Linked DNA regions of Homo sapiens. The protein of the gene in region 1 interacts with the protein of each later gene in a biochemical or structural test. Each region holds a gene or a part of one and is shown in the gene's direction. Other genes may lie near its edges.

The links. The genes of interacting proteins can lie anywhere in the genome.
Region 2: the proteins of COPS4 (region 1) and RAB18 form a complex in vitro, tested with the Homo sapiens proteins (one study listed by BioGRID).

The regions. Positions count from the first base shown.
Region 1 is NC_000004.12:83,038,177-83,045,203, forward strand, and holds part of COPS4 (COP9 signalosome complex subunit 4), read left to right. Parts: intron 1-7,027. UniProt on the Homo sapiens protein: Component of the COP9 signalosome complex (CSN), a complex involved in various cellular and developmental processes.
Region 2 is NC_000010.11:27,528,297-27,535,323, forward strand, and holds part of RAB18 (ras-related protein Rab-18), read left to right. Parts: intron 1-3,232; coding exon of another isoform or gene 3,233-3,319; intron 3,320-4,210; coding exon 4,211-4,283; intron 4,284-5,438; coding exon 5,439-5,557; intron 5,558-5,631; coding exon 5,632-5,698; intron 5,699-7,027. UniProt on the Homo sapiens protein: The small GTPases Rab are key regulators of intracellular membrane trafficking, from the formation of transport vesicles to their fusion with membranes.

The DNA.
Region 1 (7,027 bases):
GTTGTCCCAAACACAACAGTTTTAGTGGTTTTCATCTCTAGAGTGAAAGTCAATAACATCTAGAGTTTACTGTGCGAAGCACAACATTACTTACATTTAAAAATCCTTAACAAGTAGGAGTAGGTGATAGTAGTGATATTATTTACATTATAATAAGAGAAAACCAAAGTACAGAGTTGAAATACCTTGCTCTGAGGTCACACAGCTAGTGGTGAAGCTAGAAGACAGTCCATATCTGCTTGCCTATGAGCCCTTAACTCTAAACAAACACATCTACCTTTTTGGCCTTATTTTCACAAAAAAAAATTGACTACACTTCAGATAGTGATTATTTTTGCCTAGAATGCCTGTCTTCCTACTGTTATTAAATTGAAATACTTAGAATGTTTAAAGATCAACCCCATCCAATGATTTCTCTCTCCTAAAAATTATATTAGCACTTACCTGTTTTTTTTGTTTGTTTGTTTGTTTTGTTTTGTTTTGAGATGGAGTTTCACTCTTGTTGCCTAGGCTGGAGTGCAGTGGCGCGATCTCGGCTCACTGCAACCTCTGCCTCCCGGGTTCAACCGATTCTTCTGCCTCAGCCTCCCAAGTAGCTGGGACTACAGGTGCATGCCACCACACCCGACTACTTTTTTTTGTATTTTTAGTAGAGACAGGGTTTCACCATGTTGGCCAGGATGGTCTCGATCTTTTGACCTTGTGATCCACCTGCCTTGGCCTCCCAAAGTGCTGGGATTACAGGCGTGAGCCACCGCGCCTGGCCAGCACTTACCTGTTTTTAAGATTTTGTCTTTAATTTTGTGTAGCTTCATTATGATATGTCTGTGGATTTGTTTTTACTTTTCTATGTCAGTTACCCTTTGCTGTGAAATAAACCCCAAAACTTAGGGCTTAAAACAACAGTCACTTATTTAGCTTATAATTCTGTAGGTTGGTAGTTTGGATTGGGCCCAGCTGTATGGTTCTTTTCTGCTCCACGTGGTCTTGGTTCCACATGGGCTCCCATGTGGGTCTATAGTTAGCTGCCAGCCAGGCCAGGTAGGCAGCTCTGCTTCTGTGGATTGGCTGGCTTGTTGGCTGGGGCAATATAGTTGACTGGGCTACATATCTCATTAGCCAGTATGTTAGTCTGAGCCTGTTCATGTGACAGCAGCAGGGTTCCAAAAGACAAACACATACAAGGCCTCTCGAGGTCTGGGCTCAGAACTAGCACTTCATTTCTACCACGTTTTATTGGTTAACCCCAGATTCAAGGGGTAGGGAAATAAACTCTACCTTTTGATATGAAGAGCTACAAAGTTGTATTGTAAAGGGACATGGGTACTGGGAGTGAAATTATATTGTGGCCGTTTTTTGTAAGCACTCTGTCACATTATCCTGGTTAAGCTTCACTGGGTTTCCTGAATCAATGGATTAAATCATTTCATCAGTCTTGAGATGTCTTCAGTTATATCTCTTTATTTTATTTTAGAGACAGGGTCTTGCTCTGTTGCCCTGGCTTGAGTGCAGTAGAGAGATCATGGCTTACTACAGCCTTAACATGCTTGGCTCAAGCAATCTTCTCGCCTTAGCCTCCTGAGTAGCTGGGACTATAGGCACGTGACACCATGCCTGGCTAATTTAAAAACATTTTTTTTGGTACAGATGGGGTCTCCCTATGTTGCCCAGGCAGGTCTCGAACTCCTGGGCTCAAGGGATTCTCCTGCCTCGGCCTACAAAAGTGTTGGGATTACAGGTGTGGGCTACTGTGCTTGGCCTGTATCTCTTTAAATGTTGCCTCTGCCCCATTCTGTTTCTCCTCTAGGCTCCGGTGAAATCCCTGTCAGGCCCACTGACTATAACCTCTAGGCCTCTTACTCTGTCTTTTCCATTTCAATGCTTTATTCTGGATTAGTTCTTCAGGCCTACCTTCTAGTTTATCACTTCTTCAACTGTGTTTAATCTGCCGTTAAGTACTCCATTGAGTTTCTAAGTTGGGTTGTATTTTTTAGCTCTGTAATTTCTGGTGGTTCTTTTTTCCAATGATACTTTTTATGGCTCCTGGTCTGTTGCTGAAACTTTAAAGCTTGTCTTTATCCCCATGAACATTGTAAGCATAATTGTATCATGCTCTTTCTGATAACTCCAGTCAGTATTTGACGTTTTGGTTGTTGCGATTGTCTGTTGCTTTTGTTGATTCTAGAGAGAAATTTCATTACCTGAGGGTGCTAACAGTGTATAATCAAGGCTTCAGAATTTTTTTGGTTTACCTGGGTGGTCTTGGGATAGAATTTGTAACCTTACTTCCAAAGTGTGTGTCTCCTCCTTTGGCAGAATATGGAACTTCCATTCCCATTTGTGCAGCTCTATTAGTCTGCCAGAAATGGCAGCTTGCTTCTCAGTGCTTCCAGCAGATTCGCAGTGAGCCCACCTTCTCCTCCCTACAAGAAGTGCCACTCTACCTCTCAGCCATCTTTCCACAGTCAGCAAATGCCTTTAGACAGAATATATGGTTTATCTTATTTTCCTCATTTTACCTTTCTTGTTAGGATTTTATGCAATTACATTTTTTTTTTCATTTCTTTCAGCTTTTTATGTTGGCTTTTTTTTTTTTTTTTTTGAGGGAGGGTTGGTCCAGTCGTTTAGTTCACCATTACTGTAAGTGGAAGATCTGTTAATACCTACCTTTACCACCCATTGTGATCTTAAATGATGACTGTGGTACATTTTCATGCTTTATTTATCTCCAGATTCCTTTCAAGTGCCAAGAAATTAAGAATCAACATACTGAATTTGGTTCATATACATTAAAGATGCTCAATTCACTGATGATAAATGGATAGGAGAGATGTATGATGCCTTAGTAATAAAACTTATTTTCCTCCATAAGTTTTTTTTTTTTGTTTTTTGTTTTTTTTTTTTGAGATGGAATCTCACTCTGTCGCCCAGGCTGGAGTGCAGTGGCATGATCTTGGCTTACTGCAATCTCCACCTCCCGGGTTCAAGCGATTCTTCTGGCTCAGCCTCCTGAGTAGCTGGGACTACAGGCACACGCCACCACGCCCGGCTAATTTTTGTGTTTTTAGTAGAGACAGAGTTTCACCATGTTGGGCAGGCTGGTCTTGAACTCCTGACCTCAGGTGATCCGCCCACCTCAGCCTCCCAAAGTGCTGAGATTACAGGCGTGAGCCACTGCGCCCGGCCAAATTTTTTTAAGGAAGAAAATATTTGGCACTTGTCACATTCTCCATATCAGTCACATTTCTCTTTGTATACTGAGTACTCATATAAAAAGCTATTATTATCTACGAAGCCTTATTTGACAAATCTAGTCCATTTTTGTTTTACTCTCACTCTGTCACAGGCTGGAGTACAGTGGCTCACTGCAGCCTCCACCTCCTGGGTTCAAGTGATTTTCCTGCCTCAGCCTCCCGTGTAGCTGGGACTTACAGTTGTGCACCATCACACTCGGCTAATTTTTGTATTTTTAGTAGAGATGGGGTTTCTCCGTGTTGGCCAGGCTGGTCTTGAACTCCTGGCCTCAAGCGATCGTCTTCCTTGGCCTCCCAAAGTGCTGGGATTGCAGGTGTGAGCCACTTCACCTGGCCTTACTCTCTTTTGAGTTAATATATTACCTCTTCATTTATCATATTGCTTATATTGTTCAGTTTTATCATAACTTTTGTTTTTGTATTATTGTAATTTAATACTTTTTTTTTTTTTTGAGATAGAATTTCGCTCTGTCACCCAGGCTGAAGTGCAGCAGCGGGATCTCAGCTCACTGCAACCTCTGCCTCCCAGGTTCAAGTGATTCTCGTGCCTCAGCCTCCCGAGTAGCTGAGATTACAGGCACGTGCCACCACACCTGGCTAATTTTTGTATTTTTAGTAGAGATGAGGTTTCACCATGTTGGCCAGGCTGGTCTCGAACTCTTGACCTCAAGTGATTGGCCCACCTCAGCCTCCCAAAGTGCTGGGATTACAGGCGTGAGCCACCGCACCTGACCATATTGTAATTTAACACTTGACATATTAACTTTTTATTTTTAATCTTCCCCTTTGTCTTCTCAGCCATATGATCTTCAAATACAAAGGTCATTTAAAAACTTTTTAGTATCATACACAGAATCTCATATAGCATCTTAAAATGCCTAAGGACTCAATTAACACCTTGGGGTGATTTTATATGGCAGTATTAAATTTCTGTTTAAGTTCCTGGTTTAAAACAGGTTTGTTAGTCATTTTATGTTATTCTGAAAAAGTAATCTCTGTTGTTAGATACTAGAATTTACATATTAGAGAAGCAAGGGAGCATGTAATGTAGCCACAGTGCTGTACCTCACTTTTTTTAATTAATTAATTTTTTTTTTTTTTTGAGACAAGGTCTTGCTCTGTCCAGGCACACGCCACCACAGCTGGCTAATTTTTGTAATTTTTTTTTATTTTTAAAATTTTTATTTTTGAGATGAGATATCACTCTGTTGCCCAGGTTGGAGTTGCAGTGGCAAGATCTCAGCTCACTGCAACCTCCACCTCCTGGGCTCAGGCAATCCTCCCCCCTCAGCCTCCCAAGTAGCTGGCACCACAGGTGTGTGCCACAATGCCTGGCTAATTTTTTTATATTTTTGGTAGAGATGAGGTTTTACTATGTTGCTCAGACTGGTCTCGAACTCCTGAGATCAAGCCATCTGACTGCCTTGGCCTCCCAAAGTGCTGGGATTACAGGCATGAGCCACCACGCCCAACCAATTTTTGTATTTTTTTTTTTTTTTTGTAGAGATGAGGTTTCACCACATTGCCCAGGCTGGTCTTGAACTCCTGGACTCAAGTGATCTACTTTCTTTGGCCTCCCAAAGTGGTAGGATTACAGGCATGAGCCACTGCGACTGGCCCTCAATTTATTCATTTATAAAATTGGGAGTTTATGTACACAATTTCTAAGGCCTCTATAAGTTATATAATTTGATGAGTATAAAACTTTGATCACTTTTTAGGTTGGTTTATTTTCATTTTTTCTTCCTATTCCCAATACAGATTAGTTGATTGATTATGAAACTATGTGTTAAAACTTAGGTTAGGCCAGGCACAGTGGCTCAAGCCTGTAATCCCAGCACTTGGGGAGGCTGAGTTGGGAGGATTGCTTGAGTCCAGAAGTTGGAGACCAGTTTGGGCAATGTAGTGAGACCCCATCTCTACAAAAAGAAAAGAACAGTTAACCAGGGGTCGTGGCACATGCCTGTAGTCCTAGCTACTCAGGAGGCAGAAGCAGGAGGATTGTTTGAGCCCAGGAATTGGAGGTTACAGTGAGCTATGATCATGTCACTGCACTCTAGCCTGGGCGACAGAGTGAGACCCTGTCTCAAAAAAAAAAAAAAAAAAAAAAAAAAAACCATAACAACCACAAAACAACTTAGGTTAATTAGCAAATTTATATAAGTGAGACACTATTACCTTTGAATATAATGTTGTTAGTATAAAATAATCTAAGAGGATATAAAAGTAAGAGATCTTAGCAATAACCCTTGATTTAATTAAATATGAAAAAAATAAAAAATAACAAACCATTGAATGTATAACTTATCTGAAAGCATGCCCAGGGCCATAAAGTAATTTATCTTTTAAGGACCCTCAAACTTAGCAATATTGAAAATATAATTTTCTAAAAACTTAATATTTCCTTGCTTTCTTAGAATAATTTATTTCTTCTTTTGGAATTTGCTATCTTTTCTATCCGTATATCTGCTTTCTTAAAGTCACTTTGATTCATTGTGGTTTTGAGAAATCAGATAACCAAGGTTGTGAGAATTTTGTATGAGTTGAGAGTCAGTAATGCTGAGTGGTAGCTTGAGGGTGTGCCCTACAAAATAAAAGTCATAAATCTGAATGAGTTCAGGTTCTATTTTTGTATATTTATTTCGTAACTCTATTCTGGATGACTTTCCGAATAATTGCAATGCTATGAGGTTTGTAAAATGTATTTAGTGCTTTTAAAAAATATTACAATTGGCTGGGCGCGGTGGCTCACGCCTGTAATCCCAGCACTGTGGGAGCCCGAGGTGGGCGGATCACCTGAGGTCAGGAGTTCAAGACCAGCCTGGCCAACATGCGGAAACCCCATCTCTACCAAAAATACAAAAATTAGCCGCACTTGGTGGTGCATGCCTGTAGTCCTCGCTACTCTGGAGGCTGAGGCAGGAGAATTGCTTGAACCTGGGAGGCGGAGGTTGCAGTGAGCCGAGATTGCGCCAGTGCACTCCAGCCTGGGTGACAGAGCAAGACTCCATCTCAAAAAAAAAAAAAAAAAAATGATTAAGACAAAAGAGATAAAGATTAGTATAGGCCGGGCACGGTGGCTAACGCCTGTAATCCCAGCACTTTGGGAGGCTGAGGTGGGCGGATCATGAGGTCGGGAGTTTGAGACCAGCCTGACCACATGGTGAAACCCCATCTTTACTAAAAATACAAAAATTAGCCAGGCGTGGTGGCGCATGCCTGTAATCCCAGCTACTCAGGAGGCTGAGGCAGGAGAATCGCTTGAACCTGGGAGGTGGAGGTTGCAGTGAGCCAAGATTGCGCCACTGCACTCCAGCCTGGGTGACAGAGCGAGACTCCGTCTTCAAAAACAACAACAACAACAACAACAAAAGAATAGTATAACACTCATATACTAACCACTCGTTAAGAAATAAAACATTACTAATACCGTTGAATATTTGAGTGCTTATGATGTGCCAAGAATTGAGATAATTGTCTACATAGCAGAGAACAAAACACAAGAATTCCTGTCCTCGTGGAGCTTGTGTGGTCACAGATATTAGGTAGAATAGTTATTAGATCTGAATGCAAATAAAGAATAAATAGGTACTGTCTGACAGCATAAATGGTATTCTATCAGTGCATTTGGCTTGGCGAAGTTTATTTTGTACAGACTAAGACATTCAGTCTTTAATGTTTGGTTTCGTTGCCTGGTCAACATTATCCTATTGCTGGTGACCCTACATACATTACGTCTGTAAGAGGAAAAGATTCAGGTCACCTCAAATAAT
Region 2 (7,027 bases), on another chromosome or scaffold:
TAAACATTTTTTAAAGAAGAGAGGTTTTCCCCCTGGCTGTAAGAATAATACAGGGTCATTCTAAAAGGGATAATTGAGACAATAAGAAGAGCAGAGAAGAACATCTATAAAAGTATACCACTGAATACATTTTAGTGAGCATTCTTTAAAATATCAAGGGATATGTATACATACCACTATACATACCAGTATGTGAGTTTTCCAAAACAAAGGGATTATATTATATCTTACATTTTTAAACCTGTTTGTCCTCCTTTCCTACCACCTCACCCCCACTCATAGTATGTGCTGTATCCGTTTAGATGGCCAGCTAGTATTCCGTTTCATAGCTGTACTTTAGTCAGCCTTCAGTGAGAGATACTTACATTTTTGCCAGCTTTTCACAAAGATTACAGCTCTTTGAGCATCCTGATTTATACGTCTGTGTGTACTTGTCCAGTTACTTTAGAATGTGTAGCTGGAAGTAGAAATGAATATGAAGTCTTCACATTAATGTACACCAAAAAGCCTTTTTTTTCAGTTTATACTCCCACCAATTGTATTCATATTCATTCTGCCACATCCTTATCTCTACTGTTATCATTCTTTCTGTTTTTGCCTCTGAGTGTTGCTGTTTTACTTATATTTGCATTTCTTTTGATAAGAGATTTTTGCCTGTTTATTGATCATTTTAAAAAATAAGTTTTCTTTTTACATATTTTACCCATTTTATACGTTAGCATTCATCTTTTTCTTCATTAAAGTCTTTATATAATAAAATTATTAGCTCTTTGTCATGTGGTACAATTTTCTAAGCTATCATTTGCCTTTAAAATCATGTATCAGTTGAATATATGTTTGTGTTCTTGTGTGTGTGTGTAATACTGCCATATGCTACAGATTTTTTTTTCCAGTTTGTCATTTACCTTCCAATATTGTTAAGGATGAATATGGGGATGGGGAGGTGAAGAGGAGGTAAAGGGTGTTCTTGTCATTTCAAGGTTTTAATATTTATATGGTTGGATCAGCTATTTTCATCATGGCATTTGGGTGTAACGTATTTAGGAAGGCGTTTCCTCTGTATTAGAAATATATGAATCCATAGTTGCCTAATTCTTCTATAGTTTTATTTATAAAATGAGTTTCTCTCCTACTTGGAAGCTTCTTCTAGGATGAAATAGAATAATTAAGCATAGCCCTGCCCCTCCTACCTCCTGAAAGTGCATACTCATCATGACCTTGTTTTCTTCTACTGCCTTTTCCTATGTCCTTGCTTCACTTTCACTCCCTACATCTATTATTAAGCCTTTCTAGATCTTTCCTAGCCCTGAGTTTATCTATATATCTTTCAGTAATTTCTTCTCTCCTTCCCCCATCAGAAAATAAAACTACAGGATAGAGACAAAAAGCTGTGCTTCATTTATCTTACAAAGATGTTATTATACCTACCACATATTCCTGTTTTGAAAACAAACACAAGCAACAATCTAACTTCTATTTAAGCATATACACTTTATAGTTACTATAAATCCTGATGCGATGCTATTGCACATGGTTCCCTCCACCCCCTAAATTATAACACCTATTTAAACACTTTTGTAAGTGAATCCAAAAATGGCAAGCCTCTAAACATCTGGCCTAATTATTAATAAATATTCACAAGCAAAGTTTCAAAGTCAAGTGTAATATTTCAACATTAAAACTTTCTTGCTATGGTTTTTACTTTTAAAACATCAGGATTTATGGATATTTTAACTGGAATTGCAGTTCTGATTTTTATGTTGTGTTTCATTAAGGCAGTTTTTGAAGTTGATCTCAATGAAGACCAGAGAGAACAAAGTTCATGTTCACTTGTTTTTCTGCCAGCTCTGGAAGTTATGGATACAGTTTCCTTATGCAAATAGAATAAACTTTCTTCCTGTTATCAAAAAGTCTTGGGGCTAAAATATTTCATACTTGGTCCTTGCCTCAAACTATTTGTTATGAATATAGAACAGTGTTCCATGTATGGAAAAATAGCTGCTTCTTAAATTTCCAAATTCACTAATTCACTGTATAGAAAAATAGCTGCTTCTTAAATTTCCAAATTCAGTAATTCACTGTTCCAAATCCAAGGCTTGTCTTTTCAGTAATGGCTTTTCCTTCTTTTTTTTTTTTCTTTCTCTCTAAAACAGATAGTCTGTACTACTAAAAGTTAAATGCTTAACATGGTGCAGTTCTCAAAGTTATAATGTATCTGGATACTGAATAATTTGAATATTACTAATTTGTCATTTTTTGCATGTAAGCAGATAGCTAGGATACGTTCTCATAATGATTTGTCATTTAAAAATATACATTTTTTATTGAGTATGAATCAGATTGTCTGAAATAGGTACTAGTACAAGGCTATGAAGAGCATTTCTAGTTTCTTATTATATATATTACCAATTGCTTCCTAAAAGTGGTGACACTTTTACTGATACACATAGTAATCATTTTACTATGATATGCATAGTAGTTACATCTTTTGGCTTCTAGTTGATTACTTTTTTTTTCCCTGCAAATTTGGGTTTTGATTACTTGAGCATAGTGATCAAAAAAGATCACTGGGCATCCATATACCGTTTCATTAATGATTAATGGACTACAATATTGACTTGTCTCATGTTATCAAAGTTATAATCTGCTTTATATAGCAAGTTCACTTTGCTTTAAACAGCTTTTAATTTATATTATTGTTCTTGAAAAGGTGAGTAAATATGCAAATTGAATAATTTTAAAATCCAAGGCAGGTTTTGTAAGAAACTTAGAGGCAGAGAGAATTTTTGTAAAGAGAAAAATTATTTATTTTATAAATTTATCTGTTCAGAACATTTACTTTAAATCTGTTAATTCTTCACTTAAGCATGGCAGGGTGGGGATTAGTTTCTGTGGTGGTAAGGATCTGGAAGGAAAGGCTTTCAAATTTATGTAAGTGTATCTGTGGAAGAGTGGTGAATGTTCAAAGTGGTTTACATTGAAACGTTACTTTCCTCTTAAGTTTCTCTTCTGGGGTTATAAATGACTGCAGATCCTCCCTACTGTCTTGCTGAAGCCCCTCACGCCCCTGGTTTGAATTCTTCTCCAATCTTATAAACCTCTTACAGGTTATTCTAACATTTTTATATCTGGGGGAGCTTCTGCTTGTCCCATAACAAACCCTCATTTACAGCAGTGGGACTGGTAGCTAAGTTGAGGTTTGATACATGTTTTTACTTTTACTTTTCTTTAGGTTACTTTGCATCAGCAGACTGCAAACTTTTTCTTAAAGAGCCAGATAGGAAATAGTCCAATCCTGAAGTGGGCCATGTGGCAATACGTAAGCAAATAGGCCTGCTGTGTTTCAATAAAACTTTATTTAATAAAACAGGTGGTGGGCTGAGCTGCTTTGTATAATCTTAGGTACCTTGAATCCATAGTCCAAGGATGGTAGAAAGACAAGAGAGAGAAGGAATTGGGCCCGGAAGTAAAGGCTTGTTAAATAGGTTCATTCTTTTTTTTTTTTCTCAACAAATTCTGAGCAACTGCCTTTTTTCAAGAATTGGTCTCAGCACAATGGTTAAACTGGTGATTAAACAGATGAGTCCCTGCTTTATGAAATTTACATTTTCTACCTAGTGTACATTGTTCACTAACCCTAACATGAGTCAGAAATAACATGTAATAAAGAATGGCTTGGTTATATGCATTTTCTCAAAAGGAGATACATAGAAAACACTTAAAAGAGCCCAACCTAAAAATCTGTTACCTAAAGTAAGACATCCCATAATTTTCTTCAAATCAGTGGTTCTCAGCCTTGATTCTACATTAAAAGCACCTGGTAAGATTTAAAAAAAAAAAAATTCCTGTCATTACCTTAGACCAATTAAGCAGAAATTTTTTGGAAGCTAGACTCAAGATTCCCAGAAAATTTCATTGTGCAGCTGGAGTTTAGAACCATGGGTTTCATTTCATGTATGATAAAAGTCTTAAATTCAAAACAGCAGAAAACCTTTACATAGTTTCATTTTTCTAGAGATCAGTATTTATAAATAATTTTATTTTGTGACACTTGTCAGTAAGCGAACACATCTTATTTAAGTTCCAGTTTTTTAATGAGCTCATGCATTAATACTATTTTTAGTAATGCTGTTTGACTTTCTACTCTTAAACTAGTATATTGAAGGTCTATTTATACTTTGTTTAATTTAATAATAATGATCATTTTTAGGATACTGCTGGTCAAGAGAGGTTTAGAACATTAACTCCCAGCTATTATAGAGGTGCACAGGGTGTTATATTAGGTAAGTGTTTACTTTAATGTACTATTTAAAAATATTTATTGGAGTTTCTGATTGTCCTAGTCTGTGAAAGTTAATATGTCTTTGTTTTACTTCTCGTTAGAGCTACTTTTATGTAACTTGTAGTTGTATTAACTTCATGTAATATTAATGAATATTAAAACTTTTGATTTTAGTCTTGTCTAGCACTTAAAAAATAGACAAGGCTAATTTATTTGGTTTGAAAACACATGTCAATGAGAACGTAATTGAGGATTAATCAGCATATGTTGGACTGTCTTGGAGTATTACAGAAACTGGGCTTCTGTTATCAGCATATTAATATTTGCTGTAGTTTATAAAGGACGAAAAGTATTTGTTGATTAGTAGAATCTGCTTTATTAGTCCTAAAAATATCACAAAGCACTTAACACTATTGATTTATAATCAAACAAAATTTAGAAACCAGATGTGGATTCTCAGTGTAATTTGTTGAAAAGTGCTTGTTCTTGATATTCCTGGGAAACTGTTTAAAATGAATATTGATCAATTGTATTAATAGGTAGAATTCTCTTTTTTTAAATATTATGGCTTGGTAGTGACAGCCTTTTGGTTCAGCATCTCTTGAGTTTATAAAACACTTTAATAAGGTTTTTGTTATAATGCAGAATGACATAAGATGAAAGTGATAACAGGAAGACCACCAGGAACCCATCTACTAACTGTACTACAATTTTTTCAAAGCTGTAAATTTTGGTTCTTGTAATAAACAAATTAATGGGGTCATAGATGTTTACATTCATGTATTTTTTTTTTAATATTTTGCCACAGATTTGAATCTAAACACTCTGGTTTTTGGATAGACCTCATTCATCATTATGAATGGGAATAGCTGTTGTTTTGCTTTAATGGGTATTAAATGTGTTTTCACTTATTACACAGGATATAATTTCATTTCTGTGACAGTATATGTTAATAGGATTGAAATGTGTATGCTTTAAAAAAAAAACACTTGTTTCTTCCATTTGGATCAGTAGACACTCAATATTAATCGTTGAAGACAATAAAAAAAAGACTTGTCTATATTGCTTAGTAATGCTAACTCCTAGCTACATATCAGAAATACGCCATTGCTTCTTTCTTTAATGCTTATTTAACAAATGACTCCTTTTATTTCAGTTTATGATGTCACAAGAAGAGATACATTTGTTAAACTGGATAATTGGTTAAATGAATTGGAAACATACTGTACAAGAAATGACATAGTAAACATGCTAGTTGGAAATAAAATCGATAAGGTAAGAAGGCAGACACTTGGCATTTTGGTTCTATATTTTGGTAGCCTTTCTTAATCATTGCATTTATATTTTAGGAAAATCGTGAAGTCGATAGAAATGAAGGCCTGAAATTTGCACGAAAGCATTCCATGTTATTTATAGGTAGGTGTGTGAATGAATATCTGTCCTTTCATTATTAATGAGGAATTTTTGAATGGAGTTTTTGCCAAGTTTATTTCTTTATGAACCATAAAATGTGTTTAGAGTATTGTTCCTAGTTGCCTTGTGTTACAAAATCTAACTATATAACAAGGTTCTTTATTCTTCTTCCTGTAAAATGTATGATCATATTATGTGAAATCATATTAAAAAACAGTCAAATCATTCCTCACAGGATATAGTGGCATTCAGTAAAGTTTGGCACCCAGTGCTAAAGTTATGCCTTGCTGGTCCATATGCTGATACCATCAGCACCACCTGGGAGCTTGTTAGCAGTGCTTCAGCTCAGGCCCTACCCCAGATTTTCTGAATTAGAATCTGCATTTTAACAAGCTCTTCATATGGTTTGTATGCACATTAATTTTTGAGAAACATGGTCCAGCAAGAGTTGCCAAACTACAGCCTGGTCCAAATCTGGCCCCACCATTTGTATTGGTACACAGCCATGTCCATGTGTTTACATGTTGTCTGTAGCTGCTTTTGTGCCATATGGCAGAGTTTAGTAGTTACAACAGAGGCCATACGGCCCACGAAGCCTAAATATTTTCTATCTGGCCCTTTACAGAAAGAGTTTGCCAACCCCTCATCTAGAAAATTGGATGAGCTATGTCAGAATCACCTGGGCCCTGTGCCTTATTACAGGTTTGAAAGGCAGTTTATTGAAAGCACTCTAGTTGATTCTGATGTGAAGCCAGCTTTAGGAATTACGGATTTAACCATTCCATGGCGTTAGAAGCTACCAGGAATCTGCAAATGAAGTTGAGAGGACTTCATATATAGATAAAAACAGAATGGAATTAGTGGAAAGTATTGAGATTTTCAGAAAGGAATCGAGTACTTTTACTTGCTGTATGTCCCTCATTTCCATACATTAGTTTACCCAATATTTATTGAACACTCAAGATGTAACAGTGGACAAAACTGACAAACTTTCTGCCCACATGGAGCTTACATTCTAGTAAGGGAGACAGACTTAAATAAGTAAGTAGTGCTATGAAGGAAATAAAACATTATAAGGGGAGAGAGAATGACTGGAGTGGGGACTGCTTAGGGAAAGTTCTTAGAGGCTGTCCCATTTGAGCAGAAATCCCTCAGGTGAGGATCTAGAGCAAGCTTGTCCAACTCATGGGCTGCATGTGGCCCAGGATGGCTTTGAATGTGGCCCAACACAAATTTGTAAACTTCCTTAAAACATTATGAGATTTTGTGCTTTTTTTTAAGTTCCAGCTATCATTAGTGTTATTGTATGTTATTTGTGGCCCAAGACTATTC